Linked DNA regions of Homo sapiens: all the other regions are linked to region 1. Evidence: fine-mapped expression QTL. A gene starts in region 1. Each other region holds a variant in brackets. All regions are shown on one strand. Distances are from middle to middle.

Region 1 (7,164 bases):
CCGTGTCCTGCTGCTAGAATATCAGTGCTAGCAGAGAAGGGATTTTCATCTGTTTTGCTCGTGTTTTTCTCATCTGTTTTTCTTTGCCTTTTTTTCTTTTCATGCTTTGTCGCCCAGGCTGGAGTGCAGTGGTGCAATCTTGGTTCACTGCAACCTCTGCCTCTTAGGTTCAAGTGATTCTCCTGTCTCAGCCACTCGAGTAGCTGGGATTACGGGTAGGTAGCACCACGCCCCGCTAATTTTTGTATTTTTAGTTGAGATGAGGTTTCACCATGTTGGCCAGGCTGGTTTTGAATTCCTGGCCTTGAGAGATCCACCCACCTCAACCTTCCAAAGTGCTGGGATTCCAGGAGTGAGCCACTGCTCCCGGCTCCTCATCTGTTTTTCTCAGTGTTTGATAAATATTGGCCAGATGAGTCATCACAACGATCCCATGTCAGCTCATGGGCATCCGTCTCCTTCTATTTGATGTCTCTCAGTCTTCTATTCTGTGGATGTGGTTTGTTGAATGAATGAATAAATGAATCACCAAGCGGACAGATGCCTAGCTGAAGAGTGGTTTTCATCCTGAGGGAGGCCACTGGGGCTGTTCAGAGAGTAGGGGTGGCCCAGTTAGATCTGTGCTTTGAAATATTCCAGACTCTTCTGAAGTCTGGGATTTTTTTTTTTTTTTTTTTTTTAGACAGAGTCTTGCTTTATTGCCCAGGCTGGAGTGCAGTGGTGCAATCTTGGCTCACCGTAACCTCTGCCTTCTGGGTTCAAGTGATTCTCCTGCCTCAGCCTCCAGAATAGCTGGGATTACAGGCGTGTGCCATTAGTCCTGGCTATTTTTTTTACTTTTTATTTTCAGAAGAGACAGGGTTTTGCCATGTTGGCCAGGCTGGTCTGGAATTCCTGGTCTCCAGCAATCTACCCGCATTAGTCTCCCAAAGTGCTGGGATTACAGGCGTGAGCCACCATGCCTGGCCAGAAGTCTGGGATTTTGCATGTGCTATTCTCTTTGTCTGGAATATTCTTTCCCTGGGATTGGTCCAACTCCTTCATATCCCAGCTCCGATGCCTCCTCCTCCAGGAAGCTCTCCCTGACCCCCAAGCCTGGTCAAGCATCCCTTCTGGGCTCCCCCATCCCAGCCCTGCCCACTCTGTATCATCACTATCTGTGTCCCCCCCTGAACTTTGAGTCCCAGCAGAACGGGGCCAGAACTGTCTTGTTCGCCACTGGGTCCCTGGTATCACCCATCGCAGGACCCAACACTGGGCTCAGAATACATGACTGTCCCTTGAAGGAAATGTCTAGTTGGAGACAGCCGAGTGCAGGGGTAGCCAGGGTGTCTGATAGGAGATGCAGACAAGGATCAGAAACATCTGAGTTCAGATTTCTTGCTTATGCCTGGGGTTTGGGCCACAGCAAGCCTCATTACCCTTATCTGCTTCCAAATCAGGAAAATGGGAGTGTGAGCTGGTCTCCTGGATTAGTGGGGATAAAACCATGTCTGTGAGCACTGCTAACAGAGATGGAAACCTCTCTGTTGCCTCAGGGCTTCACACGCGTCCTTTGAATGTTTCCACATTATGCCATGGGCTCCTTCTTATCTTTCAGATCTCAGTGCAGATGTCACTTCCTTCCAGTGGCTGAACTGTTCACTCTGTCACTCATAGGATGCTTTTGCTTTCTCCCAACGCTTAGTTCCAGCTGACAGCCCAAGTTTATTGTCTTGTCTCTTCCGCACTAGAATGCACGCTCTAGCAGCCAAGGATTTTGTGTGTGTGTGTGTGTGTGTGTGTGTGTGTGTGATACAGAGTCTGGCTCTGTTGCCCAGGCTGGAGTGCAATGGTGAGATCTCAGCTCACTGCAACTTCTGCCTCCCAGGTTCAAGCGATTCTCCTGCCTCAGCCTCCCGAGTATCTGGGATTACAGGCGTGGACCACCACACCCGGCTAATTTTTTAGTATTTTTAGTAGAGATGGGGTTTCACCATGTCGGCCAGGCTGGTTTTGAACTCCTGACCTCAAGTGATCCGCCCGCCTCGGCCTCCCAAACTGCTGGGATTACAGGTGTAAGCCACTGCACCCGGCCAAGCCCAAGTTTATTGTCTTGTCTCTCTGCACTAGAATGCAAGCTCTAGCAGCCAAGGAATTTTTTGTTTTTTTGTTTTTTTTTTTGATACAGAGTCTCACTCTGTTGCCCAGGCTGGAGTGCAGTGGTGTGATCTCCGCTCACTGCAACCTCTGACGCCTGGGTTCAAGCAGTTCTCCTGCCTCAGCCTCCCAAGTAGCTGGGACTACAGCCGCCCGCCACCACGCCCAACTAATTTTTGTATTTTTAGTAGAGACAGGGTTTCACCATATTGGCCAGGATGGTCTCCATCTCCTGACCTCATGATCTGCCCACTTAGGCCTCCCAAAGTGCTGGGATTACAGGCATGAGACACTGTGCCTGGCCTATTTTCATGTTTTTGTATTTTTAGTAGAGATGGGGTTTCACCATGTTGGCCAGGCTGGTCTTGAACTCCTGACCTCAAGTGATCCACCTGCCTTGGCCTCCCATAGTGATGGGATTACAGGCGTGAGCCACCGCTCCCAGCCTAAATCTTTTTTCCCTTTAGACTGAGTCTTGCTCTGTCACCTAAGCTGGAGTGCAGTGGTGAGATTACAGCTCACTGTAGCCTTGACCTCCTGGCTCAAGCGATCCTCCCGCCTCACCCTCCTAAGTAGCTGGGACTATTGGCGCATACCACCACACTCAGCTTATTTTTTAATTTTTTTGTAGAGACGGAGTCTCGCCATGTTGCCCAGGCTGGTCTCAAATTCCTGGGCTCAAGTGAGCCTCCCACCTTGGCCTCCCAAAGTGCTGGGATTAAGGGTGTAAGCCACTGTGAAATTTTTTTTTTTTTTTTTTTTGAGACGGAGTCTCGCTCTGTCGCCCAGGCTGGAGTGCAGTGGCGTGATCTCGGCTCACTGCAAGCTCCGCCTCCCGGGTTCACACCATTCTCCTGCCTCAGCCTCCCGAGTAGCTGGGACTACAGGCGCCCGCCATCATGCCTGGCTGATTTTTTGTATTTTTAGTAGAGACGGGGTTTCACCGTGTTAGCCAGGATGGTCTCGATCTCCTGACCTTGTGATCCACCCGCCTCGGCCTCCCAAAGTGCTGGGATTACAGGCGTGAGCCACCATGCCCGGCCGAAAAATTTTTTAAAATATTTATTTATTTATTTTGAGACGGAGTCTCACTCTGTCACTAGGCTGGAGTGCAGAGGTGTGATCTTGGCTCACTGCAACCTCCACCTCCCGGGTTCAAGCGATTCTCCTGCCTCAGCCTCCTGAGTAGCTGGGACTACAAGTGCATGCCACCATGCCCAACTAATTTTTGTATTTTTAGTAGAGACAGAGTTTCACCATATTGGCCAGGATGGTCTCGATCTCCTGACCTCATGATCTGCCCACTCTGGCCTCCCAAAGTGCTGAGATTACAGACATGAGCCACCATGCCTGGCCTATTTTCATGTTTTTAAAGATAAGGTCTCACTATGTTGCCCCGGATGGAGTCTAGTGGCTAAATGTGGGCACGATCATAGCTCACTGCAGCCTTGAACTCCTGGCCTCAAGGGATCCTCCTGCTTTAGCCTCCCAAATACCTGGGACTACAGGTGCATGCCACTGAATCCAGCTTGTTCTTCAGTAATAATAACAATAACAGCAATCGCAGCAGTAGTATTTGACTTTCTTCTGAAGGGCATTTTTGTTAGAAACAAAAGAAGAGAGAAAGAACAAAAAATTTTAAAGCACAAATAAATAACTTTTTTTTTTTTGAGGTGGAGTCTCACTCTGTCACCCAGGCTGGAGTGCAGTGGTGAGATCTCGGCTCTTCGCAACCTCTGCCTCCTGGATTCAAGCAATTCTTCTGCCTCAGCCTCCTGAGTAGCTGGGATTACAGGCATGTGCCACCACACCCAGCTAATTTTTGCATTTTCAGCAGAGACAGGGTTTTGCCATGTTGGCCAGGCTCGTCTGGAACTCCTGACCTCAAGTGATCTGCCCGCATCAACTCCCAAAGTGGTGGGATAACAGGCGTGAGCCACTGCGCCCGGCCGTATTATCTCATTTGAACCCTTGCAACACTCAAGGCGGTATGACTTATTATTATTCCCATTTACACATATGAAGACTGAGCCTCATAGAGGTTGTAAATTACCTGAGGCCTCACAGCTGCTGTAGGAGGAAGCTTCTGACATTACCACTACAATCTTTGAGCAAGCATGAAAGCCTGAAATGTCACAGAACAGGCTAGAGATGGGAAAGGAATGAGGATTTCAACACTGTCAGGTGGAGTAAGGAATCATAATTCATTGTTAACCTCCCAAACGGCCACTAACAGAGAATTTGGGGAGGCAGCAGAGTGGGTGCGGTTAGGGGCTTGGGAGGTGGGCATGCACGTGTCATCCTCTCTAGGTGTGGCCTCAAGGTGAATGACTTCCTCTGCCTCTGGGGTTCAAGCGATTCTCCTGCCTCAGGCTTCCAGTAGCTGGGATTACAGGCACGTGCCACCACACCAGGTAATTTTTGTATTTTTAGTAGAGACGGGTTTCACCATGTTGGCCAGGCTGGTCTCGACCTCCTGACCTCAAGTGATCCGCCCGCTTCACCTCCCAAAGTGGTGGGATTACAGGCTTGAGCCACGGCTCCCTAAATAAATACATCAATTTTATTTAAATCTTACAGCAATCATATGAGACAAAAGCTTTTAACACCTGCACTTTATATTCGAGGAATTAAAGTTCTCAGAGGCGACTAAAGACCAAACTCAGGGCTGAGGAGTTCCAAAGCTGAGTTGAGTTGCAAATGAATCACCGAGGACCACCGGAGCTTTCTAGCGACCCTCGCACCAGGGAACGAACCCCTGTGGTTTAAGGGCTCCAACCCACAACCCAGTTCCTTTGGCGGGAAACAGCACCCTCCCAAGGCCCCGCCCCTTCCTGGCCCCGCCCCGTCGTCTCTGGGCCCGGCTCCTGGAGATGGGTATTATTAATCTGCCTTCTATGGGGGACCTGGCCCATCTCGGGTATCAGCCCCGCCCCTACTCGTCCAGTCTCCGAACGCTCTGCAGCCAATCGGCGCCCGAGGGTCGGTCCCCGCCTTCTCAAGCCCCGCCCCCTACCCTTATCCCTGGCAGCTTCCGCTAAACGGGCTCAGAGCCACGCGGCACGCCCGGGAGGCTTTCTCTGGCTGGTAACCGCTACTCCCGGACACCAGACCACCGCCTTCCGTACACAGGGGCCCGCATCCCACCCTCCCGGACCTAAGAGCCTGGGTCCCCTGTTTCCGGAGGTCCGCTTCCCGGCCCCCAGATTCTGGCATCCCAGCCCTCAGTGTCCAAGACCCAGGCAGCCCGGGTCCCCGCCTCCCGGATCCAGGCGTCCGGGATCTGCGCCACCAGAACCTAGCCTCCTGCAGACCTCCGCCATCTGGGGGCACTCAACCTCCTGGAGCCAAGGGCCCCACGTCCCACCCAGAGAAACTCTCGTATTCCCAGCTCCTAGGGCCAAGGAACCCGGGCGCTCCGAACTCCCAGCTTTCGGACATCTGGCACACGGGGCAGAGCAGAGAAGCCTCAGCGCCCAGCCTGGGGAATTTAAACACTCCAGCTTCCAAGAGCCAAGGAACTTCAGTGCTGTGAACTCACAACTCTAAGGAGCCCTCCAAAGTTCCAGTCTCCAGGTGCTGTTACTCAACTCAGTCCTAGGAACGTCGGGTCCTGGGAAGGAGCCCAAGCGCTCCCAGCCAGCTTCCAGGCGCTAAGAAACCCCGGTGCTTCCCATCATGGTGGCCGATCCTCCTCGAGACTCCAAGGGGCTCGCAGCGGCGGAGCCCACCGCCAACGGGGGCCTGGCGCTGGCCTCCATCGAGGACCAAGGCGCGGCAGCAGGCGGCTACTGCGGTTCCCGGGACCAGGTGCGCCGCTGCCTTCGAGCCAACCTGCTTGTGCTGCTGACAGTGGTGGCCGTGGTGGCCGGCGTGGCGCTGGGACTGGGGGTGTCGGGGGCCGGGGGTGCGCTGGCGTTGGGCCCGGAGCGCTTGAGCGCCTTCGTCTTCCCGGGCGAGCTGCTGCTGCGTCTGCTGCGGATGATCATCTTGCCGCTGGTGGTGTGCAGCTTGATCGGCGGCGCCGCCAGCCTGGACCCCGGCGCGCTCGGCCGTCTGGGCGCCTGGGCGCTGCTCTTTTTCCTGGTCACCACGCTGCTGGCGTCGGCGCTCGGAGTGGGCTTGGCGCTGGCTCTGCAGCCGGGCGCCGCCTCCGCCGCCATCAACGCCTCCGTGGGAGCCGCGGGCAGTGCCGAAAATGCCCCCAGCAAGGAGGTGCTCGATTCGTTCCTGGATCTTGCGAGGTCAGCTCCCGCTCCCCCGGGAGGTGGGGAAGAGTGTTACGGATGGCGGGAGTGGTCACGTGGACAGGACGGGGCTTTGGGGCCCCTGGAGCAGAGACTTCCCTCTAGAGTCTTAGGAAAACTCGACAGGATATTGAGGGGAGGCTCCAGCCCTCGGGAGTGTGAGTCTAGTCTCCTGGGGAAGGGGTTTCTAAATCTGGGGGCCTGGGTACATAAGTGGGGTCTTATAGAGGGAGAAGAAAGTGATTTGGGGAGACATAGGAGGGTCTGCCTAGGGGAGAAAGACACTGAGGGGAGGGGACCCCAGGAGGAACTTTTGCGGGGGGAATCTTTGCGTGGTCAAGGGCCCCAAGATGGGGCTTCTAGATATAATTTGGGGCCAGGGTTGGAGAGTTTGGGTAAGGAGCCCCTGGAGGATCTGAGATCTGAGTAACTCCCACCAGGCCCTCTTCCCAGCCCTGGGGCACCCCCACACCACGTGTCACTCGGACATAACCAGGCTCTGTTTTTGGCCTCCGCTTCCCGCCCATTTCAGCTGGGGTCTGGCCGCTTCCCCTTTATCTTTTAGATCAGCCCTGCCACCCCTGCCTTTCCCTCCCGTTTCCTCCTCTGTCTGGGCCACCCCCTAGCAGGCAGCCCAGAAGAGGACCAGTTAGAAAGGGGAGCAGATTCTTTTCCTTCTCCTGGCCTCTGCCCCGCGCCCCCAAGAATGGCCTCCCCCACTTTGAGGAGGGCGGGGGGCAGAGGCCCCCTTGCGCTTGCCTTTAGGGCTTGCTCATTC
Region 2 (7,530 bases), 33 kb before region 1:
AATATTTTGCCAAAACATGAAACCAAGATGGCTATGGCAGTTCCAGCAGCCCTGGTGGCCAGGGCGGTGGCAGAAAGCTTTAGTTACTTTGGGGAAATGAAGCTTAGCCAGCAGACAGAGCCAGGGAAATGACAGGGAAGCTCAGGTTACAAACAGACTTGTGAACTCAGCCAGGCACAGGGGTGGCAGGGCCTGTCTGTTATGAAGAAGGTGTGTTTTTTGTGTTTGTTTGCTTTTTTTGAGACGGAGTCTCGCTCTGTCGCCCAGGCTGGAGTGCAGTGGCGCGATCTCGGCTCACTGCAAGCTCCACCTCCCGGGTTCACGCCATTCTCCTGCCTCAGCCTCCTGAGTAGCTGAGATTTACAGGTGCCAGCCACCACGCCCGGCTAATTTTTTTTAATATTTTTTAGTAGAGACGGGGTTTCACCGTGTTAGCCAGGATGGTCTTGATCTCCCAACCTTGTGATCCGCCTGCCTCGGCCTCCCAAAGTGCTGGGATTACAGGCATGCGCCACCGCGCCCGGCCGTGTTTGATTTGAGACAGGCTCTCACTCTGTTGACAAGGCTGGAGTGCAGTGGCATGATCACAGCTCACTGCAGTCTCAACCCCTGGGCTCAAGCAATCCTCTCACCCCAGCTTCCCGAGTAGCTGGGACCACAGGTGCGTGCCGCCATGCCTGCCTATTTTTTTTTTTTTTTTTTGAGACACAGTCTCCCTCCATCGCCCAGGCTGGAGCTCACTGCAAGCTCTGCCTCCTTAGTTCATGGGAGTCTCCTGCCTCAGCCTCCCGAGTACCTGGGATTACAGGCGTGAACCACCACATCCGGCTATTTTTAAAATATTTTTAGTCGAGATGGGGTTTCACTATGTTGGTCAGGCTGGTCTTGAACTCCTGACTTCAAATCATCCACCCACCTCAGCCTCCCAAGGTGCTGGGATTACAGGCGTGAGCCACCACCCTCGGCTCCTGATTTTTTAATATTTTTTAAAGACGAAGTTCCACTATGTTGCCTAGGCTGATCTCAAACTCCCTGGCTTAAGCAATCCTCCCGCCTTAGCCTTCCAAAGTGCTGGGATTGCAGGCATGAGCCACCATACCCAGTGGAAGATGTATTGGAGACAATACTCATGTATATGGACAAAAAACAAAAACAAAAAACTCCAGGACTGTATTTGTGACTAATCGTATAACAGGTTATTTCAGTTTCTCTTCTGTGGAAAGTGCAAAGCATTCCAACAAAGGGTTTTAATGTAGATTTTTGTTTTGCACCCATGCTGTTGATGGCTAAATATAAGTGTCTGATGATAATGTTGAATAAAAAAAAAAAAAACAAAAAAAAAACCTTAGAGGAAGTTTTGCTATAAAGGGAGAAGAGAAATAGTCGCTAGAGGGGGGAATGAGATTGGAGGGTGTTTGGTGGAGTGGATGATATCACAGCAGGTTTTTGTTTTGTTTTGTTTTGTTTTGTTTTGAGACAGATGCCCAGGCTGGAGTGCAGTTGTGCGATCTCGGCTCACCGCAACCTTTGCCTCCTGGGCTCCAGCGATTCTCCTGCCTCAGCCTCCCAACTAGCTGGGACCACAGGCGCCCGCCACCATACCCCGCTAATTTTTTGTATTTTTAGTGGAGACTGGGTTTCGCCATGTTCGTCAGGCTGGTCTCAAACTCCTGACCTCAAGTGATCCGCCCGCCTCAGCCTCCCAAAGTGCTGTGATTACAAGTGTGAGCCACCGCGCTCAGCTCAAATCATCAGTTTTATGCTGATGGGGATGATGCAACAGACAAGGGGAAACCGGAAGATGCAGGAAAGAGATGGGAGAGGGATGGAAGGCGCAGCTGGGATTATCCAAGCACACGAGAGGCATCTGGGAGGAAGGGGTGCGTGGGCGCCAAGGCAGGTGGTGGTGGTGTTGGTGTGGGGAGTTCCCAAAAGTCCCTACTCCAATGACTTCCTTCTTCTCAGTGAAATGGGAAGCAAGAGTAAGTCTCAGTCAGCTGAGAGTGACAGCCACTCAAGTTGGTGCCCTTAAGACCACGCGGGTGGTGGAGCCTGTGGAGTGGAGATCACCTGTCTTTTATTTTCTTTTAAGACATGGGGGCCAGACGTGGTAGCTCATGCCTGTAATCCAAGCACTTTGGGGGGCCGAGGCAGGCGGATCATCTGAGGTCAGCCTGGCCAGCATGGTGAAACCCCATCTCTACTAAAAATAAAAAAGTTAGCCGGGCATGGTGGTGCACGCCTGTAATCTCAGCTACTTGGGAGGCTGAAGCAGAGGCCGCAGTGAGCTGAGATCGTGCCACTGCACTCCAGCCTGCGTGACAAGAGCGAGACTCCATCTCAAAAAAAAAACAAACCAAAAAACTTAAAAATACTCTGGGGTGGCAAACGAAATGTGGTGGCTGGATGGAGCCCTCAGGCCATGTGTTTGCAACCCTGGTGCAACTGCACTAAAGCACAGGCCAGAGTCAGTTCTGGGCTTTTGAGGGGCTCCAGGGTTTAGAGAACAGAAAGTCGAAGAGGAACCTGAGAAAGCCACCAAACAAGGAAGCTTCTTGTTTTTGTTTTTGTTTCTTTTTGAGACAGACTCTCACTCTGTCTCCCAGGCTGGAGTGCAATGGCGCGATCTCGGCTCAATGCAACCTCCACCTCCCAGGTTCAAGCAATTCTCCTGCCTCAGCCTCCCAAGTAGCTGGGATTACAGGTGCCCACCACCATGCCTGGCCAATTTTTGTATTTTTAGAGACGGTGTTTCTTTTTCTTTCTTTTTTCTTTTTTTTTTGAGACAGAGTCTTTCTCTGTCGCCAGGCTGGAGTGCAGTGACGCCATCTTGGCTCACTGCAACCGCTGACTCCCTGGTTCAAGGAATTCTACTAACTCAGCCTCCTGAGTAGCTGGGATTACAGGCACGTGCCACCATGCCCAGCTAATTCTTTGAATTTTTAGTAGAGATGGGGTTTCACCATGTTGGCCAGGATGGTCTCCATCTCCTGACCTCGTGATCCGCCCACCTCGGCCTCCCAAAGTGCTGGGATTACAGGTGTGAGCCACCGTGCCTGGCGGTTTTATTTGTTTTTTGAGACAGGGTCTCACTCTGTTGCCCAGGCTGGACTGCAGTGGCACTATCATGGCTCATTTCAGCCTTGAATTCCCAGGCTTGGGTGATTCTCCCACCTCAGTCTCCTGGGTAGCTGGGATTACAGGTGTATGCCACCAAGTCTGGCTAATTTTTTGTGTTTTTTGTAGAAATGGTGGTTTCAAGGCCGGGCGCGGTGGCTCACGCCTGTAATCCCAGTACACTGGGAGGCCGAGGTGGGCAGATCATGAGGTCAGGAGATCGAGACCATCCTGGCTAACAAGGTGAAACCCCGTCTCTACTAAAAATACAAAAAAAAAAAAAAAATTAGCCAGGCGTGGTGGCGGGCGCCTGTAGTCCCAGCTACTTGGGAGGCTGAGGCAGGAGAATGGTGTGAACCCAGGAGGCAGAGCTTGCAGTGAGCCAAGATCGCGCCACTGCACTCCAGCCTGGGCAACAGAACGAGACACAGTCTCAAAAAAAAAAAAAAAAAAAGAAATGGCGGTTTCATCATGTTGCCCCGGCTGGTCTCAACCTCTTGGGCTCAAGTGATCTGCTCACCTCTGCCTCCGAAAGTGCTGGAATTACAGGTGTAAGCCACCGAGCCCAGCCTCAAGGAAGCTTCTGAACTGTTAGGGGGAGCTCCTGCTCTAGGCCCAGCAGCTTCCAAGGCTTTAAAGGCATAATCCCATTTAATCTTGTAATGACGCTGTGAAGTGGCTCTTGGTATTAGCATTGCAATTCTGAGTATTATCTCCTCTTTGTAGATAAGGAAGATCATTTGCCCAAGGACACACAATGAGCAGATGAGACTGGAACCCAGATTTCTAGAGTGCTAGACTCTGTGTCTTCCCATTCACTTTATTTTTTATTTTATTTTATTTTATTTTTTTGAGACAGAGTCTCACTCTGTTGCCTAGGCTGGAGTGCAGTGGCACGATCTCAGCTCACTGCAACCTCTGCCTCCCAGGTTCAAGTAATTCTCGTGCCTCAGCCTCCCCAGTAGCTGGGATTACAGGCGTGTGCCACTATGCCTGGCTAATTTTTGTATTTTTAGTAAAGATGGGGTTTCACCGTGTTGGTGAGGCTGGTCTCAAACTCCTGACCTCAAGTGATCTGCCCACTTTGGCCTCCCAAAGTGCTGGGATTACAAGCGTGAGCCACCGTGGCCAGCCATAAAATTTTTTTTTTATTATAAAATATCTGGGCTTTTTTTGTTTTTTGTTTTTTAGTTGGGGCCTTGCTCTGTCACTCAGG[C/G]TGGAGTGCAGTGGTGCAATCTCAGCTCACTGCAGCCTCCGCCTCCTGGGCTCAAGTGATCCTCCTGTTACGGGATCTTTGGGGTGTTGCTTTTCTGGCCAGAAACCTCTGTGGCTGCAGTGCCTTTGCCCAAGTTCTTGTCCTGTGTCCAGGAAGAATGAGGTACACAGACAAGTGAAGGGTGAAGAAGATGAATAGGAGCTTTATTTAGTCTTAGAACAGCTCAGAGGAGACCGTCAGTGGGCAGCTCCTCTCAGTAGGCAGGTCACCCCATCGAGTGTTCAGCTCTCAGCAGAGATGAGGCCCTGAAGAGGGTGGTTCCTCTCGGCAGGCAGGTCATGTAGGCGTCTCTGCAGGTCTCTGAAGCTCTCAGTAGAGAGGGTAGCTCCTCTGTGCAGGTGGTAATCCCATTGTCTCTCTGTCCTCTGCCCTCTGCCCTGCTCTGGTGGAGCCTGGGGCTTTTATGGACCTCAGAGAGGAGGAAGTACGTGCTGGTTGGTCCATGGGCTGCCATGCGTGGGCCCAGAGGAGGTACAAGTCCCCACTCTTGTCTGTGGGGTTGGCAGCCTGGCCCCCAGCCTTCAGGCCCTCCCTGGCAAGAAGGTGGGGCCTTACTAGGGACCCCCCACCAACTTCTGCCCAGGAATCCGTCTGCCTCCTGCTGCCATTCATGGCCCCAGGACTGGACCCCAACCCCGATCCCAGATCAGAGCTGGCGCTGGGAGAGAAGAGAGGCCAGGCAGCAGGAGAAGACACCCAGCAGTCTGCAGAGATTGGGGGGGCCTTCCCGGCCTCTGAGAGTGCAGGCTGCAGAGAGGCCCAGGTCCTCAGCCTCAGAGGGCGGCCACAGCTGCATCCGGGGAGCTCCTGCCCTGCCAACTCGGAAGGGGTGGGGCTCCCACTTGTCCCCGGCTCTTGCTCACTCTGTGGAGCTGGAGGCCTAGGTTGGCAGCCATGGGGGCAGCTGCAGCTGCACCCGGGAGGGCAGACCCTACCTACTTCTGGCCCCTGCAAGAGCACAGGAAGGCTCAATCCACAGTGGCGGTTTGGGCGGCTGCAGTGGCATCTGGGGAACTCCCACCACAGCTCAGAAGGGGCAGGGCTTCCACCGGCTCCATGGAGTGTGTAGCCCCAGCCGCACCTCCCTGCTGCAGCCGGTGTAATGACAGCAGCCACTGCCATCACTCCTGCCTCAGTCTCACTAGTAGCTGGGACTACAGGCGTGCACCACCACGCTAGGCTGATTTTTAAAATTTTTAGCAGAGACAGGGGTCTCCCTATGTTGCGCAGGCTGGTCTCGAACTACTGAGCTCCAGCTCGGCCTCCTGCCTCAGCCTCCCAAAGTGCTGGGATTACAGGTGTGAGCCACTGCGCCAGGCCTAAAATAATTGTTTTGGTTTTTCTTTTTGTTTGAGACAGTTGTCTTCTGTTCTGCACACGCAGCAGGAAATTGGATCTCTACCTCACAGCATACTCAAAAGAGTTGAAATATAACCTATTTGTAGTTATCAGCGACCTGGGTGAAGACACACCTGGCAGAAGGGTGTGGTAGCCTCATTAAACATGAGTGAGAATGAATTCCAGGTGGAGATGGGAGAGATGATTTATTTGCTAGCTGGGGAAAGAAGAGGCAGGCCCAGCCCAGAGGGAGAATGAGAGGCGGAAGATGACATTCGCTGCATGCCTGACACCTGCCTGAAGTTAACCAGGGTCAGCCCGGCCTTTCCTCCCCCGGGATGTCTCCAACTCGGCTGACAACATCCACTTTAATTAATACAGCACAGCAGGACACTTCCTGTGTACAGCTACACGCTAAGGGCCAGGAGTAGCCTAATGTCCTTGAGCCCCAGAGAAACCATCGTGTGTTCAAGCATGCTGTCTGGAAACTTAGAAAGGGCTCATGACTCCTCTCTGCTTTCACACCCCACATCCCATCCAGGGGAAATCCTGTTGACCTTCAAAATGCACCCGAAGTCGGACCCCCCAAAGGCTGGACGCCGTGGCTCACGCCTGTAATCCCAGTACTTTGGGAGGCCTAGGCAGGCGGATCACCTGAGGTCAGGAGTTCGATATCAGCCTGGCCAACATGGTGAAACCCCGTCTCTACTAAAAAATACAAAATTAGCCAGGTGTGGTGGCACACGCCTGTAATCCCAGCTACTCGGAAGGCTAAGACAGGAGAATCGCTTGAAGCTGGGAGATGGAGGCTGCAGTGAGCCGTGATCGCACCATTGCACTCCAGCCTGGACAAGACACAGCGAGACTCCACCTCAAAACAAAAACAAAAACAAAAACAAAAACAAAAACAAAGTCTGAACCCCCAGAGCTAGTCTAGCCATGATCATTTCTCACCTGGAAAATTGCAGTCACCTCCTCGCTGCTTCTGCCCTTGTCCCCAACAGAAAGGTCCCCATATGGCAGCAGAATCCTTTGACAGAAGTGACATGATGTCATTCTCCTCCTCAAATCCCTTCTGTGGCTCCTGCCACACTCACTAAAAGACAACATCTTCACCATGACTCACCAGCTCCCTGTTCTCTGTCTGACCTCATCTTCCACCCGCTCTTCCTCTGTTCCATGCAGACTGTGACTGGCTTTTTTTGTTTTTTTTTTTTTTTGAGACGAAGTCTCGCTCTGTCACCCAGCCTGGAGTGCAGTGCCGTGATCACGGCCCACTGCAACCTCTGCCTCCCGGGTTCAAGTGATTCTCCTGCCTCAGTCTCGCCTCCTGAATAGCTGGGATTACAGACGCCCACCACTACTACACCCAGCTGATTTTTTTTTGTATTTTAGTAGAGACGGGGTTTCTCCATGTTGGCCAGGCTGGTCTTGAACTCCTGACCTCAGGTGATCCGCCTGCCTCGGCCTCCCAAAGTGCTGGGATTACAAGGGTGAGCTACCGTGCACAGCCAAGGGTATTGGTTTCTTATTGCTCCTGTAACAAATGACCATACACTTAGTGGCTCCATAGGAGACAGATTTATTTACTACCTTACTGTTCTGGAGGTTTTTTTTTTTTTTTTTTTTTACCACAGGGTCTGGCTCTATGATGCAGGCTGGAGTGCAGTGGCCTGATCATGGCTCACTGCAGCCTCAGCCTCCTGGGCTCAAGCAGTTCTCCTGTCACAGCCTCCCAAGTAGCTGAGACTACAGGTGTGTGCCACCATGCCCGGCTAATTTTAAAAAATTTTTTGTAG
Region 3 (7,530 bases), 25 kb after region 1:
GTACTGTGCCTGGATGTGCAGTAGGCTAGATTTATGTTTCTCTTTACCCAAACATCTCAGTGTAGCAAAGGGCAACAGAGCAGTATTGCTGCCAGCATATCTCGCCTCCAGCCACAGGGAGGTTTTGTCCTAGCTCAGAATAGAACGAATGGGAATGGTCAGCTTTACATCGAGACATTCCATTCCCAGGGACGAGCAGGAGACAGAAGCCTTCCTCTTATCTCAACTGCAAAGAGGCCTCCCTCTCTCACTACTCCTCCTCAGCACAGACCCTTTACAGGTGTCAGGCTGAGGGACAGTCAGGTCTTTCCCTTCCCATGAGGCCATATCCCAGGCTGTCTCAGTCGGGGGAAACCCTGGACAATACCCAGGCTTTCTTGGGCAGACGTCCCTGCGGCTTTCTGCAGTGCATTGTGCCCCTGGTTAATAGAGAATGGAGAATGGCGATGACTTTTACCAAGCATACTGCCTGCAAACATATTGTTAACAAGGCACATCCTGCACAGCCCTAAATCCATTAAACTTTGATTCCTTACAGCACATGTTTCTGTGAGCACAGGGTTGTGGCTAAAGTTACAGGTTAACAGCATCTCAAAGCAGAAACAATTTTTTCTTAGTACAGATCAAAATGGAGTTTCTTATATCTTGCTTTTCTACATAGACACAGTAACAGTCTGATCTCTCTTTTTCTTTTCCCCACACAGGCACCTGCCACCAGGCCTGGCTAATTTTTGTATTTTTTGTAGAGACGGGGTTTTGTCATGTTGGCCAGGCTGGTCCCGAAATCCCGACCGCAGGTGATTTGCCTCAGCCTCCCAAAGTGCTGGGATTACAGGAGTGAGCCACCACTGTGCCTGGCCATGCCCAGCTATTTTTAATTAGAAAAGGTTTTTGTTTTTGTTTTGTTTTGTTTTGTAAACAAGGGATCTCACTATGTTGCCCAGGCTGGTCTGGAACTCCCAGGCCAAAGTGTTGGGATTACAGGCATGCACCACTGCACCCAGCCACTGCTTTTTTTTTTTTTTTTTTTTTGAGATGAAGTCTCGCTCTTGTCCCCCAGGCTGGAGTGCAATGATGTGATCTCAGCTCACTGCAACCTCCACTTCCCGGGTTCAAGCGATTCTCCTGCCTCAGCCTCCCGAATAGCTGGGATTACAGGTGCCTGCCACCACGCCCGGCTAATTTTTGTATTTTTTTTTTTAGTAGAGATGGGGTTTCACCATGTTGGCCAGGATGGTCTCCAACTCCTGACCTCAGGTGATCCACCCACCTCAGCCTCCCAAGGTGCTGGGATTACAGGCATGAGCCACTGTGCCCAGTGTCAAACATTTTTTAAAACCAGTGGCTGGGTGGCTGGGCGCAGTGGCTCATGCCTGTAATCCCAGCACTTTGGGAGGCCGAAGCAGGTGGATCATCTCAGGTTAGTAGTTTGAGACCAGCTTGGCCAACATAGTGGAACCCCGTCTCTACTAAAAATGTAAAAAATTATCTGGACATTTGTAGTTTCAGCTACTCAGGAGCCTGAGGTGGGAGAATCGCTTGAGCCCAGGAGGCGGAGGTTGCAGTGAGCTGAGATCTTGCCACCGCACTCCAGCCTGGGCAACAGAGTGAGACTCTATCTCAAAGCTAACTAACAAACAGACAGTGGACTGTCATTAAAATGAAACCTGTGCAAATCTTGGGTGAAAGATGAAAACGGTGGGGTGGGGGCCCTCCTCTGCCACCTCCTCCAAATACTGGAACTTGGAATCTGGAACCCACCAATGTGGCCCCTGCACCCCGCAGGTGGAGAAACCCGGATGCCAGGCCAGGCCTGACGGGCGGTGATACATTAAGAGCCTCATTCACTGGGGAGCTTGAGCACTTTGGGTTCCATGGGGTTGGCTCCGGCCTGGCGGTGGGGATCCCTGGGCCTGCTGAGGGGTGCAGGAGCCCGGGTTGGTGCAAGGAGCTGGGCTCCAGTCACATACAGAACAAGCCACTTTATTTCCTTCCCCTGCTACGCCCTCCTTCTGCCCGTCATATCCCACATTCAAGCTACCAGAAATCTCAGTTTCTCTGCCCTCAAACCCCAAATCTGGCCCCTCTACACCTTCCACACTGGGTACCACCCTGGCCAGCTGCCATCATCTCCCACCTGAACTATTGCAATTGCCTTCACGCCGGGACTCCTGAGCCCCAACCTCTTCCGTCTGTTCCCCATATGGCCTCCAGAGGGCGCCTGTTTCCATCATGGCAGCTCGTGGCCCTCCGCAGCTCAGAACCCAGAGAAAAATCCAAGGTGCTCCCCATAGCCTCTGTAGGATGCGCCTTACTTCACCGACCTCACCTCTTCCCACTCTCCTCCTCCCTCTCTTACTCCAGCCTCTGCCATTCCTTGAACATGCCAGGCCTGCTGGTGCCTCAGGGCCTTTGCACAGGCTGTTCCTCTCTTGGCTGCTCTGCCCCCCAGATTTCCATTTGGCTCTTCCCACACCTCCCTCTCGACTTGGCTGCAATGTCACCTCAGTGAGCCTTCTCTGACCGCTTTATTTAATTCTACCACCCCTGCTTCCTGCCCCCACCCTCACCCACCCAACCCATACCCTATTCTACCCTTTTCTCTTTTTTTTTTTTTTTCTGAGACGGAGTCTCGCTCTGTCGCCCAGGCTGGAGTGCAGTGGCACGATCTCGGCTCATTGCAAGCTCCGCCTCCCGGGTTCACGCCATTCTCCTGCCTCAGCCTCCCGAGTAGCTGGGACTACAGGCGCCCGCCACCACACCCGGCTTTTTTTTTTTTTTTTTTTGTATTTTTAGTAGAGACGGGGGTTTCACCATGTTAGCCAGGATAGTCTCGATCTCCTGACCTCGTGATCTGCCCACCTCAGGCCTCCCAAAGTTCTGGGATTACAGGCGTGAGCCACCACGCCCAGCCCTTTTCCTCTTTTTTTTTTTTTTTTTTTTTTTTTTTATTAAGAGATGGGGTCTTGGGCAGACGCAGTGGCTCATGCCTGTAATCTGTGCACTTAGGGAGGCTGAGGCAGGCAGATCACTTGATGCCAGGAGTTCAAGACCGGCCTGGCCAACATGGCGAAACCCTGTCTCTACTACAAATACAAAAATTAGCCAGGTGTCGTGGTACACGCCTGTAATCCCAGCTCTTTAGGAGACCGAGACAGGTGGATCACTCGCTGTCAGGAGTTCGAGAGATGTGGCAAAAACCTGTCTCTACTAAAAATACAAAGATTAGCTGGGTGTAGTGGCGGGCGCCTGTTATCCCAGCTACTCGGGAGGCTGAGGCATGAGAATTGTTGAACCCGGGAGGCAGAGGTTGCAGTGAGCCAAGATCGCGCCACTGCACTCCAGCCTGGGAGACAGAGATAGACCCTGTCACAAACAAACAAACAAACAAACAAACAAACAGAGATGGGGTCTTGCTCTATGGCCCAGGCTGGCCAGGCTCATACTCCTGAGCTCAAGCAATCCTCCCACCTCGGCCTCCCAAAGTACTGGGATTACAGGCATAAGCCACCACGCCAGGCCTGCTCTACTTTTTTTTTTTTTTTTTAAAGACAGGGTCTTGCTCTGTTGCCCAGGCTGGAATGCAGTTTCATGATCACAGCTCATTTCAGCTTTGACCTCCCAGGCTCAAGTGACACTCCCACCTCAGCCTCCTAAGTAGCTGGGACTATAGGCCCATGCTACCCTGCCCAGCTATTTTTTTTTCTTAATTTTTGTTTTTTGTAGCGACACAGTCTCTGTATGTTGTCCAGGCTGGTTTTGAACTCCTGGGCTGAAAGGATCCTCCCACCTACGCCTCCCAAAGTGCTGGGATTATAGTTGTGAACCACCGTGCCCTGCCCTGTTCTCCTTTTTTAATAGCAACAGTCCCCTCCCAACAGACGATAGAATTCACTGGTTTATGATGTTTATTGTTTCCTGCCTGTCCCCACTGGGAAGGTCACTCTGTGGGGGAACCATCTTTGAATTGTTCACTGCTGTAGGCTCAGAGTCTAGCATAGGGTCCGGTGCATGCGTATAGCAGGAGCTCAATAAACACTCGTGGAATGGTGGAAGAGGCTGGTTCAGTCTCGACTCTGCTGCCTGGCAACTATGTGACCTTGGATGAGCACTGCCAGGTCTCA[C/T]CCGCCGGTGACAATGGCTCTCTTATGCCTCACCCAAAGGCTGCTAGTGCAGGTTACGTAAGAGCAGAAGAAAAGGCACTTTGACGGTCACTCCCTGGGTCCCAGTTCCCAGCTCCCACCTTTCTCTCCCTTTCTCCATTGCCCCACCCACCCCTCTTGCCTCTTTGAAGGAGCTTGGCCCAGGAAGGAGGGCCCAGGCTGGCCCCGGATTAGGGTTGGTCCTGGGTTCTAGGCTCAGAGTGGCAGTATGGGGACAGAAAGGCAGAGGGCAGTGACTCAGTTTTGTCTCTCTTAGAGACAGGTCAATGTTCTTAGGCCTGTTGGATTCTGCCCCCATCTGCTCTTTTTGAGGTCAACTTTATTGAGGTATAATTTACATACAATAGGCCGGGCAAGGTGGCTCACACCTGTAATCCTAGCACTTTGGGAGGTCAAGGCAAATCATTTGAGGCCAGGAGTTCAAGACCAGCCTGGCCAACATGGTGAAACTCCATCTCCACTAAAAATACAAAAATTAACCAGGTGTGGTTGTGCACACCTGTAATCCCAGCTACTCAGGTGGCTGAGGCATGAGAATCACTTGAATCCAGAAGGTAGAGGTTGCAGTGAGCCAAGACTGCACCACTGCACTCTAGCCTGGGCAACAGAGCAAGGCTGGCTCCAAAAAAATTGTTTCATATGATAAATTGCACCCGTTAAAATCAATTAGGCCAGGCTCATGCCTGTAATTCCAGCACTTTGAGAGGCCGAGGCAGAAGGATCGCTTGAGCCCAGGAGTTTGAGACCAGCCTGAGCAATGCTGCGAGACCCTGTCTCAAAATAAATAAATAAATAAATAAAATACAGTTAAATGAGTTTTGACAGATGAATATACTGTGAAAAACCACTCCCATAATCAAGATACATGATATTCTCATCATCCCCAAATTTCCTCATGCTTCTTTGCAGTCTGCCCCTCTCTCCAGCTCCAGGCCCCGGTAACCACTGATCTGCTTTTGGTCACTATGAATTAGTTTTACCTCTTCTAGAATTTTACATTGGTGGAATCATATACTATGTAGCGTCTTGCATCTGGCTTTTTTTTATGTGTCATAATGCTTTTGGGATTTATTCTTATTTTTGCATGTATCAGTAGTTTGTTCTTTCTTTTCTTTTCTTTTTTTTTTTTTGAGATGGAGTTTCACTCTTGTTGCCCAGACTGGAGTGCAATGGCACAATCTCGGCTCACTACAACCTCCGCCTCCCGAGTTCAAGTGATTCTCCTGCCTTGGCCTCCCAAGTGGCTGGGATTACAGGCATGTGCCACCATGCCCAGCTAATTTTGTATTTTTAGTAGAGACAGGGTTTTGCCATGTTGGTCAGGCTGGTCTTGAACTCCCGACCTCAGGTGATCGGCCCGCCTCGACCTCCCAAAGTGCTGGGATTACAGGCGTGAGCCACCACGTCCGGCCCAGTTCTTTCCTTTTTTAAAAAACTTGCTAAGGAGTATTATGTTGTCTGAGTGTACCACAGTTTGCTTATCCACCCACCTGTTGATTTACATCTGATGGTTTCCAGGTTGGGGCTATTGTGCATAAAGGTGCATTTGTAGACAGGTTTTTTATTTTTTATTTACCTTATTTTATTTTTGAGACAGAATCTTGCTCTGTTGCCCAGGCTGGAGTGCAGTGGTGCAATCTCGGCTCACTGCAACCTCCACCTCCCAGGTTCAAGCAATTCTCCTGCCTCAGCTTCCTGAGTAGCTGGGATTACAGGCACCCACCATCACGCCCGGCTAATTTTTGTATTTTTAGTAGGGATGGGGTTTCACCATGTTGTTCAGGCTGGTCTTGAACTCCTGACCTCAAGTAATCCGCCCTCTTCGGCCTCCCAAAGTGCTGGGATTACAGGTGTGAGCCGCCACACCTGGCTAATTTTTGTATTTTTAGTAGAGACGTGGTTTCACCATGTTGACTGGGCTGGTCTCAAACTCCTGACCTCAAGTGATCTGCCCGCCTCAGCCTCCCAAAGTGCTGGGATTACAGGCATGAGCCACTCGCCCCTCCTAAATTTTTTTGGTAGAGACAGGGTCTCAACATATTACCCTGGGTGGCCTCCACCTCCTGGGCTCATGTGATCCTCCAGCCTTGGTCTTCCAAAGCGTTGGGATTACAGGCATTAGCCACCACACCTGGCTAATGTAGACAGGTCTTTACATGCCACTATTGTTCATAGCAAATATTTTGTAACATGTAGGGCTGATAGACAAAATATTTACTGCTTGGCAAAGTCATCAGTCCATCCAACATCCGGGATATGGGTCCCTCTTATCTCCCACTATACCCAGTTTAACCCCTGGACTTCTGGGCCAGAGGGCAGCCCAGGGGATCCCCAGGGAGAGCTAGGAGGATACTAATAGTCAGGGGGTTCATGGCAGTGACCGTTTATGAATGAGTAAATAATCCATAATTTAGTGTTTTGCTGTCTTAACCACTGGCGTGGCCATACCAGGGCGTGTGCTGGCTTGAATGTCAGTTCTGGGAAAGTTCTCTCTGTTCTCCTGAAATGAAGTTCATAGACAGTATAACCCACTGGCACATGATTTAACATGATTTAAGAAAATCCTACTTTGGGAGGCCAAGGTGGGCAGATCACTCGAGTCCAGGAATTTGAGACCAGCCTGAGCAACATGGTGAAACCCCATCTCTACTTAAAATACACACACACACACACACACACACACACACACACGTATTTTTAGTAGAGATGGGGTTTCACCATGTTGGCCAGGCTGGTCTCGAACTCCTGACCTCAAGTAATCCATCCGCCTTGGCCTCCCAAACTGCTGGCATTACAGGCGTGCGACACCGCACCTAGCTAATTTTTGTATTTTTAGTAGAGACATTATATATATAAATATATTTATATATATATATATATAAAAGCTGGGTGTGGTAGTACTTATCTGTAGTCCCAGCTACTCGGGAGGCTGAGGTGGGAGAATCGCCTGAGCCTGGGAAGTTGAGGCTGCAGTGAGCCAAGACTGTGCCACTGCACTGCAGCCTGGGTGACAGAGTGAGACCCTGTCTCAGAAACAACAACAACAGCAGCAGCAACAAAAACGATCCTTGATTGCCCTAAATGTAATAAAAAGGAGAAATAAGAACATAGTAACTTACAATAAGCATTTCATTATGCGGATGTGTGGAGCCAGTCCCCTAGAACCCAAGGAGGTAGGCAGATGTTTATGCCTGTAATATAGACAGTTCCAACACATTGAAAACACGTGGACTGGTGTCCAATTACCAAGAGCCATGTGCAATGTGAGTTTTTTCACATGGTGGACAACCTTTGGCCAAGTTTTGAACAAAACACGATACAAGCTTCCCTCATTTTTTGTGGTAGTTGCACTTCCTGGAAGATTCCG
Region 4 (7,530 bases), 20 kb before region 1:
CCCTTACAGACCTAGTGCGAAGGAAAGATCGAGAGTTTTTATCCACCAGACATTTGGGGATCATTTTGGGTAGGGGCAGAGGTGGTGGAGGAGATGCCTTTCCGGGAAACCCTGAAGTTGGCTTAGAGAGGAGGGTGCTGAGGGACAGGCCGCCCCCGCCAGAGCCTTCTAAGGACTTTCTGCACAGCATTCCACCACGGGGCCTTCTGGGACAGGCTGTGACTGCCTGGCAGCCCCGGCCGTCCCCACTCCCGGGTCACCGCTCCGGCCTCCTCACGCCTGGACTCACCCTCCTCCTTCCCTGCTCCCCACGGTAGCCCGAGGCTGGCACTTTTTATAGAACACTTCAAAAAATGTTAATAGGTAATTGAAGTCACATGGCTCATTTCTACAGTCACAGGAGGGGACACAGTGGAAAAACCTTCTCCTCTCCCCTGTTCCCTCCCCTCCAGGCCCCTCCTGGGAGGCACTGCGACCTCCGCTCAGCTTCCTTCATCCCATCCTCAAAGGCCCACGTGGGGAGGATGCCCGGCTCCAGCTGCCTCTGATGGGCCATAGGCCGGAGGTGGAGGCTCTGATGTGGGCAGATTAAAGGCCACGTGGGCCGGGCCACTGTGAGGGAGGCTCAGAGGAGAAGCAGGTTCCGAGGCATGAGTGTGCAGGGTGGAGAACAGGAGAGCCAGGCCAGGTGGGGAACCAGCAGAGGGGCCGGTTTCTTGTGTTTTCTCCCACAGAGAGTCACAGACTGTCTAGCAAATGCAAGCGCAGGTGGAGAAATGCTGCCCAGGTCATTCACATGTGTCTGCAACTTTCATTTATTTAATTTATTTATTTATTTGAGATAAAGTTTTGCTCTTGTCAGTCAGGCTGGAGTGCAACGGCACGATCTCAGCTCACTGCAACCTCCACCTCCCAGGTTCAAGCGATTCTCCTGCCTCAGCCTCCCAAGTAGCTGGGACTACAGGCATGTGCCACCAGGCCCAGCTAATTTTGTTTTCTGTTTTTGTTTTTGTTTGAGACTGAATCTTGCTCTGTCACCCATGCTGGAGTGCAGTGGTGCGATCTCAGCTCACTGCAACCTCCGCCTCCCGGGTTCAAGCAATTCTCCTGCCTCAGCCTCCCGAGTAGCTGGGACTACAGGCGCGCACTACCACATCCAGCTAATTTTTGTATTTTTAGTGGAGACAGGGTTTCATCATGTTGGCCAGAATGGTCTCGATTTCTTGATCTCGTGATTTGCCCACCTCGGCCTCCTAAAGTGCTGGGATTACAGGCCTGAGCCACCTTGCCTGGCCTCATTTATTTATTTTTGAGACAGGGTCTCTCTGTCTCTCTGTCTGTCACCCAGGCTGCAGTGTAGTGGCACAATTAGGGCTCACCTGCATCCTCCAACTCCTGGGCTCAAGCCATCCTCCCACCTCAGCCTCCTAAGTAGCTAGGACTATAGGCGTGCACCAGCACACCTGGCTAATTTTTTTTTCAAGAACCAGTATTTATTATCAAAATCATATTCAATGTCAAGAAGACACCATAACTACAAAAAAAATTGCGCACAGTGCAATCTCAAGGCAAACAGTCAAATGGAACACCAGTCATTTAAAAAAGTAATTAAATTAGCCCAAAAAGCAACTGGTTTTTTTTTTTTTTTTTTTTACCATCTTTTTCTTTTTTTTTTTTCTTTTTGAGATAGAGTTTTGCTCTTGTCGCCCAGCTAGAGCTCAATGGCACGATCTCTGGCTCACTGAAACCTCTGCCTCCCTGGGTTCAAGCTTTTTTAACATCTTTATACATCCAGCCAACAAATTAAAATGGTTAACAAGTGGTCTGGCGTGGTGGTTCATGCCTATAATCCTAGCACTTTGAGAGGCCAAGGTGTGTGGATCACCTGAGGTCAGGTGAGACCAGCCTGACCAACATGGTGAAACTAAAAATACAAAAAAAATTAGCCCCGTGTGGTGGTGAGTGCCTGTAGTATAGCTATTTGGGAGGCTGAGTCAGGAGAATTGCTTGAACCTGAGAGAGAGAGTTTGCAGTGAGTTGAGACTGTGCCACTGCACTACAGCGTAGGCAACAGAGCGAGACTCTCTCAAAAGTAAATAAATAAATAAATAAATAATAAAATGATTGGCCAGGCGCGGTAGCTCACACCTGTAATCCCAGCACTTTGGGAGGCTGAGGCAGGTGGATCACGAAGTCAAGAGTTCGAAACCATCCTGGCCAACATGGTGAAACCCCGTCTCCGCTAAAAATACAAAAAAAAAGAAAAAAAAATTAGCTGGATGTGGTGGCACGTGTCTGTAATCCCAGCTACTCAGGAGGCTGAGGCAGGAAGATCGCTTAAACCAGGGAGTTGGAGGTTGCAGTGAGCCGAGATTGCACCACTGCACTCCAGCCTGGCAACAGAGCGAGACTCTGTCTCAAAAAAAAAAAAAAAAAAAATTAAAATGCTAAATTAAAAAAAAAAAAAAAAAGCTGCCAGGCGCTGTGGCTCATGCCTGTAATCCCAGCACTTTGGGAGGCTGAGGCAGGCGGATCACAAGGTCAGGAGATCGAGACCATCCTGGCTAACATGGTGAAACCCCTGTCTCTACTAAAAATACAAAAATAAAAATAAATAAATAAATTAGCCGGGCGCGGTGGCGCGTGCCTGTAGTCCCAGCTACTCGGAAGGCTGAGGCAGGAGAAGGGCGTGAACCCGGGAGGCGGAGCTTGCAGTGAGCCGAGATCGCGCCACTGCACTGAGCCTGGGCGACAGAGCGAGACTCTGTCTCAAAAAAAAAAAAAAAAAAAAAGCCAGTGTGGTGGCTCATGCCTGTAATCCCAGCACTTGGGAGGCCAAGGCGGGTGGATCACTTGAGGTCAGGAGTTCGAGACCAGCCTGGCCAACATGGTGAAACCCCATCTCTACTAAAAATACAAAACTTAGCCAGGCGTGGTGGCACATGCCTGTGGTCGCAGCTACTTGGGAGGCTGAGGCACGAGAATCGCTTGAACCCAGGAGGCAGAGGTTGCGGTGAGCTGAGATTGCACCACTATACTCCAGCCTGGGCGACAGAGTGAGACTGTGTCTCAAAAAAAAAAAAAAGGAAAAGAAAAATAAAAAGGTTAACAAGAGGGCCGGGCACAGTGGCTCATGCCTGTAATCCCAGCATTTTGGGAGGCCAAGGGTGGGCGGATCACCTGAGGTCAGGAGTTCGAGACCAGCCTGACCAACATGGAGAAACCCTGTCTCTACTAAAAATACAAAATTAGCCGGCATGGTATTACATACCTGTAATCCCAGCTACTCAGGAGGCTGAGGCAGGAGTATCTCTTGAAGCCGGGAGGCAGAGGTTGTGGTGAGCCGAGATCGCGCCACTGCACTCCAGCCTGGGAGACAAGAGCGAAACCCTGTCTCAAAAAAAAAAAAAAAAAGTTAACAAGAAAAAATACAAATTCAGAGGTCTGGTATTGATGTTTAAAAAAGGCAACTGCTTAAGCATTTCTATTTATTTGAACATCAGTCTTGGCCATTCAGCTGCATGTTGTTCATTATCCGGCAGACTCTCTCAGCCACCTCTGGGGACGTAAACTTAACCACAC[T/C]GCACCCCTTGGACTTCCCGTTCTCCATTTCGATGTCAGTGTACAGCATGTGGCCATACTCGTTGAATTTGTCCTTTAGCATCTTCCATGTAAAATTGAATGGGAGATTTCTTACAAATATTTGGCATGCCTTCCTGGCCATGCCCAGGAGCATGGTCTCCTGCTCCACCAAGGGAACCTGCAAAGCTTCCAAAGTTGCCACACTCCATACCGATGGCATGGTCAAAGGTGGCACCGCCACTGCCACACATGGCCAGGCCCATGCACGTGAGGCTCTTGGCACCCATGTGCTCTAGGCCAGTGACCATGTGATCCATCATGGGGCCCATGTGCTCCAAGCCAGCCTCCATGCCTGCAAGCACCATGTGCTCCATGTTCAGGCCCACGTGTTCGATGGCAGGGCCAATGTGCTCCACGCCAGAGCCCATGTGCTCTATGGTCTGGCCCACATGGTCAATGGGAGCGGCCATGCGCTTGAGGCTGAAGCCCATGACACCTGGATAATTTATTAAAAATTTTTGTACAGACAGGATCTCACTATATTGTCCAGGCTGGTGCACCTTTTTTTTTTCCTTAAGCGTAAATTGGCCGGGCGCGGTGGCTCAAGCCTGTAATCCCAGCCCTTCAGGAGGCTGAGATGGGTGGATCACAAGGTCAGGAGATTGAGAACATCCTGGTTAACATGGTGAAACCTCGTCTCTACTAAAAATACAAAAAATTAGCCAGGTGTGGTGGCACACACCTGTAGTTCCAGCTACTCGGGAGGCTGAGGCAGGAGAATCACTTGAACCCGGGAGACGGAGGTTGTAGTGGCCCAAGATTGCACCACTGCACTCCAGCATGGGCGACAGAGCGAGACTCCGTCTCAAAATAAATAAATAAATAAATAGTAAATTTATTTATTCAACACAGGTTTACTAAGTACCTATTATATGCCAGGTGCTTTTCTAGGCACTGGGCATATGGCAAAAACAAAAACAAAAACAAAAAACAATCCAAAATAGATCAAGTTCTTACCCTTGTGGAGGTGACATTCTAGTGGGGGAGAAAGACAGTGCTGTACAGAAATACAATGACGGCTGGGCGAGTGGCTCACATCTGTAATCTCAGCACTTTGCGAGGCCGAGGTGGGAGGATCACTTGAGCCTAGGAGTTTGAGACCAGCCTGGGCAACATAGTGAGATTCCATCTCCAAAAAAAAAAAAAAAATTTAAAATTAGCTGGGTGCGGTGGTGCGTGCCTGTAGTTCAGATGGCTGAGATGGGAGGATCGCTTGAGCCCAGGGGGCTGCAGTGAGCTGCGATTGCGCCACTGCACTCCAGCCTGGGTGACAGAGTGAGACCCTGTCTCAAAAAATAAATAAATAAATAAATAAATAAATAAATAAATAAATAAATAAAATTAAAATTAAGGGAGTGAGCAGTGTAGAACCTTCCAGGCCATTTTCCAAAAGTTGGCTTTTGCTTTCTCTTCTTGAAGATCCATTTGTGTCTCAATGTGTGCTGTGCCCAGTTCTCAAGAGCAGATTGCTACACTTTTGGGAATTTCACAAACCAGTTGTTAAACATAGGTATTATTAACAATTAAATGATACAAAGTTACAGATAAATAAATTATGTTAAAAACAAATATAATAAATAGTTCAAATGCATTGCATCCTAATTGCTACATTTTTACTATTATCTATGCTCTCCAGGCTACTTATCTCTGCCTGGTGGAAATCCTGAGTGATAGTGGGTGGTTGCTTGTCTCTTCTGAATTCCACATCCAATGACATCCTATCAGTAACTAGAAATCAACCACAGTGGGAATATTTACACTGTAGAAATTGGCAAATGGTATAAATTAGGGCTGTTTCTTCCCTAGAGAGCTGGTGGTTAAATTAAAAAAAAAAAAAATATATATATATATATATTGGCTGGGCGCAGTGGCTCACGCCTGTAATCCCAGCACTTTGGGAGGCTGAGGCAGGCAGATCATGAGGTCGGGAGATCGAGACCATCCTGGCTAACATGGTGAAACCCCATCTCTATTAAAAATACAAAAAATTAGCTGGGCGTGGTGGCGGGCACCTGTAGGCCCAGCTACTCGGGAGGCTGAGGCAGGAGAATGGGGTGAACCTGGGAGGCAGAGCTTGCAGTGAGCTGAGATCATGCCACTGCACTCCAGCCTGGGCGACAGAGCGAGACTCCGTCTCAAAAAAAAAAAATTATGTATATATACACACACACACATATGTGTATATATATATATACACACACACACATATGTGTATATATATATATACACACATATATACATATGTGTATATACATACACATACACACATATGTGTGTGTGTATATATATATACACACACATACATACATATATATATATGGATGATTTTGCTCTGTTACTCAGGCTGGAGTGCAGTGGTGCAATCAGAGTTTACTGCAGCCTCGACCTCCTGGGCTCAAGCGATCCTCCCTCTTCAGCCTCCTGAGTAGCTGGGACTATAGGCACGTGCCACCACACCCAGCTAATTTTTGTATTTTCTTTGAGACAGAGTCCAGCTCTGTCGCCCAGGTTGGATGCAATGGTGTGATCTCAGCTCATTGCAACCTTCACCTCTTAGGTTCAAGTGATTTTCATGCTGCAGCCTCCCAAACAGCTCGGAATACAGGCACGTACCACCACACCTGGCTAAGTTTTGTATTTTTAGTAGAGACAGCGTTTTGCCACATTGGCCAGGCTGGTCTTGAACTCCTGGCCTCAAGTGATCTGCCCACCTTGGCCTCCCAAAGTGTTGGGATTACAGGCATAAGCCACCACACCCAGACAAATTTTTGTATTTTTTTGTAGAGACAGGGTTCTTGCTATGTTGCCCAGGCTGGTCTCAAACTCCTGGGCTCAAGCCCTTCTCCCACCTAGGCCCCCCAAAATGCTGGAAGTACACCATGCCCGGCCTGGTTAAGTATTTACCAGCACGCCAGTGCAATGCCTGTAAACGTGGCTCATTCTTTTCTACAGCTGTCTAGTGTTCCATAGCATGAATGGCCACAACATATTTTGCTGGTTCCTTCCTGGTATGTGCTTAGTTTGCTTCTAGTCTTTTGCTACTGCAAGCAGGGCTGTGGTGATTTTTCGCATGCAAGACAATAGCCGTGGAATAAATCCCTCAGAGAAGAACTGCTGTGTCAAAGGGTGTGGGAGGATCTAAAATTAAGGCCTTTTGCCTAATGGCTTTCCAGGGAGGCCGTACCAACTTCCACACCCACCAGCAAATGTGTGAGAGTGCAGAAGCTTCTAAACACAAACTTGATTGTGTCACTCTGCTGCTTAGACCCTTTGATGTTCCCCACTGATCCTGCATGAAGCCCTTCTCCCTTCAAGATACGATCCGGTGTTGGCCGGGTGCGGTGGCTCACACCTGTAATCCCAGCACTTTGGGAGGCAGAGGCAGGTGGATCACCTGAGGTCAGGAGTTCAAGACCAGCCTGGCCAAAATGGTGAAACCCTGTCTCTACTAAAAATATAAAAATTAGCCAGGTGTGGTGGCAGGCACCTGTAATCCCAGCTACTCAGGAGGCTGAGCTCAAGAATCGCATGAACCCGGGAGGTGGAGACTGCAGTGAGCTGAGCTCTTACCACTATACTCCAGCCTGGGCAACAGAGTGAGACTCCATCTCAAAAAAAATAAATAAAATGAAATTTAAAAAATGGCCAGGCGTGGTGGCTCACACCTGTAATCCCAGCACTTCGGGAGGCTGAGGTGGGTGGATCACCAGGTCAGGAGATCGAGACCATCCTGTCTAACACAGTGAAACCCCGTCTCTACTAAAAATACAAAAAATTAGCCAGGCGTGGTGGCGGGTGCCTGTAGTCCCAGCTACTCGGGAGGCTGAGGCAGGAGAATTGCTTGAACCCGGGAGGCGGAGGTTGTAGTGAGCCAAGATTCACCACTGC

The links.
Region 2: its variant is fine-mapped to the expression of SLC1A5 in whole blood (TOPMed, PIP above 0.99). The same link has a PIP of 0.9 or more in blood mononuclear cells.
Region 3: its variant is fine-mapped to the expression of SLC1A5 in esophagus mucosa (GTEx, PIP above 0.99). The same link has a PIP of 0.9 or more in transverse colon.
Region 4: its variant is fine-mapped to the expression of SLC1A5 in whole blood (INTERVAL, PIP above 0.99).

Annotation. Positions count from the first base shown.
Region 1 is chr19:46,786,619-46,793,782 of GRCh38, reverse strand. It overlaps SLC1A5 (solute carrier family 1 member 5), which reads left to right and starts at 5,189. Exons shown (of 8, transcript NM_005628.3): 1 at 5,189-6,383. The coding sequence starts at 5,818. RefSeq lists silencers at 4,872-5,031, 6,002-6,051, 6,062-6,111 and enhancers at 4,977-5,271, 4,920-5,521.
Region 2 is chr19:46,819,447-46,826,976 of GRCh38, reverse strand. No RefSeq gene overlaps it. Among named protein-coding and RNA genes, the nearest start is that of SNAR-E, 7.5 kb to the left of the region's middle. RefSeq lists enhancers at 5,058-5,117, 5,288-5,407. The variant C/G (reference allele first, on the strand shown) is at 4,334.
Region 3 is chr19:46,761,543-46,769,072 of GRCh38, reverse strand. No RefSeq gene overlaps it. Among named protein-coding and RNA genes, the nearest start is that of STRN4, 19 kb to the right of the region's middle. RefSeq lists a silencer at 7,327-7,530. The variant C/T (reference allele first, on the strand shown) is at 4,125.
Region 4 is chr19:46,806,127-46,813,656 of GRCh38, reverse strand. It overlaps the pseudogene HNRNPMP2. Among named protein-coding and RNA genes, the nearest start is that of SNAR-E, 21 kb to the left of the region's middle. The variant T/C (reference allele first, on the strand shown) is at 3,583.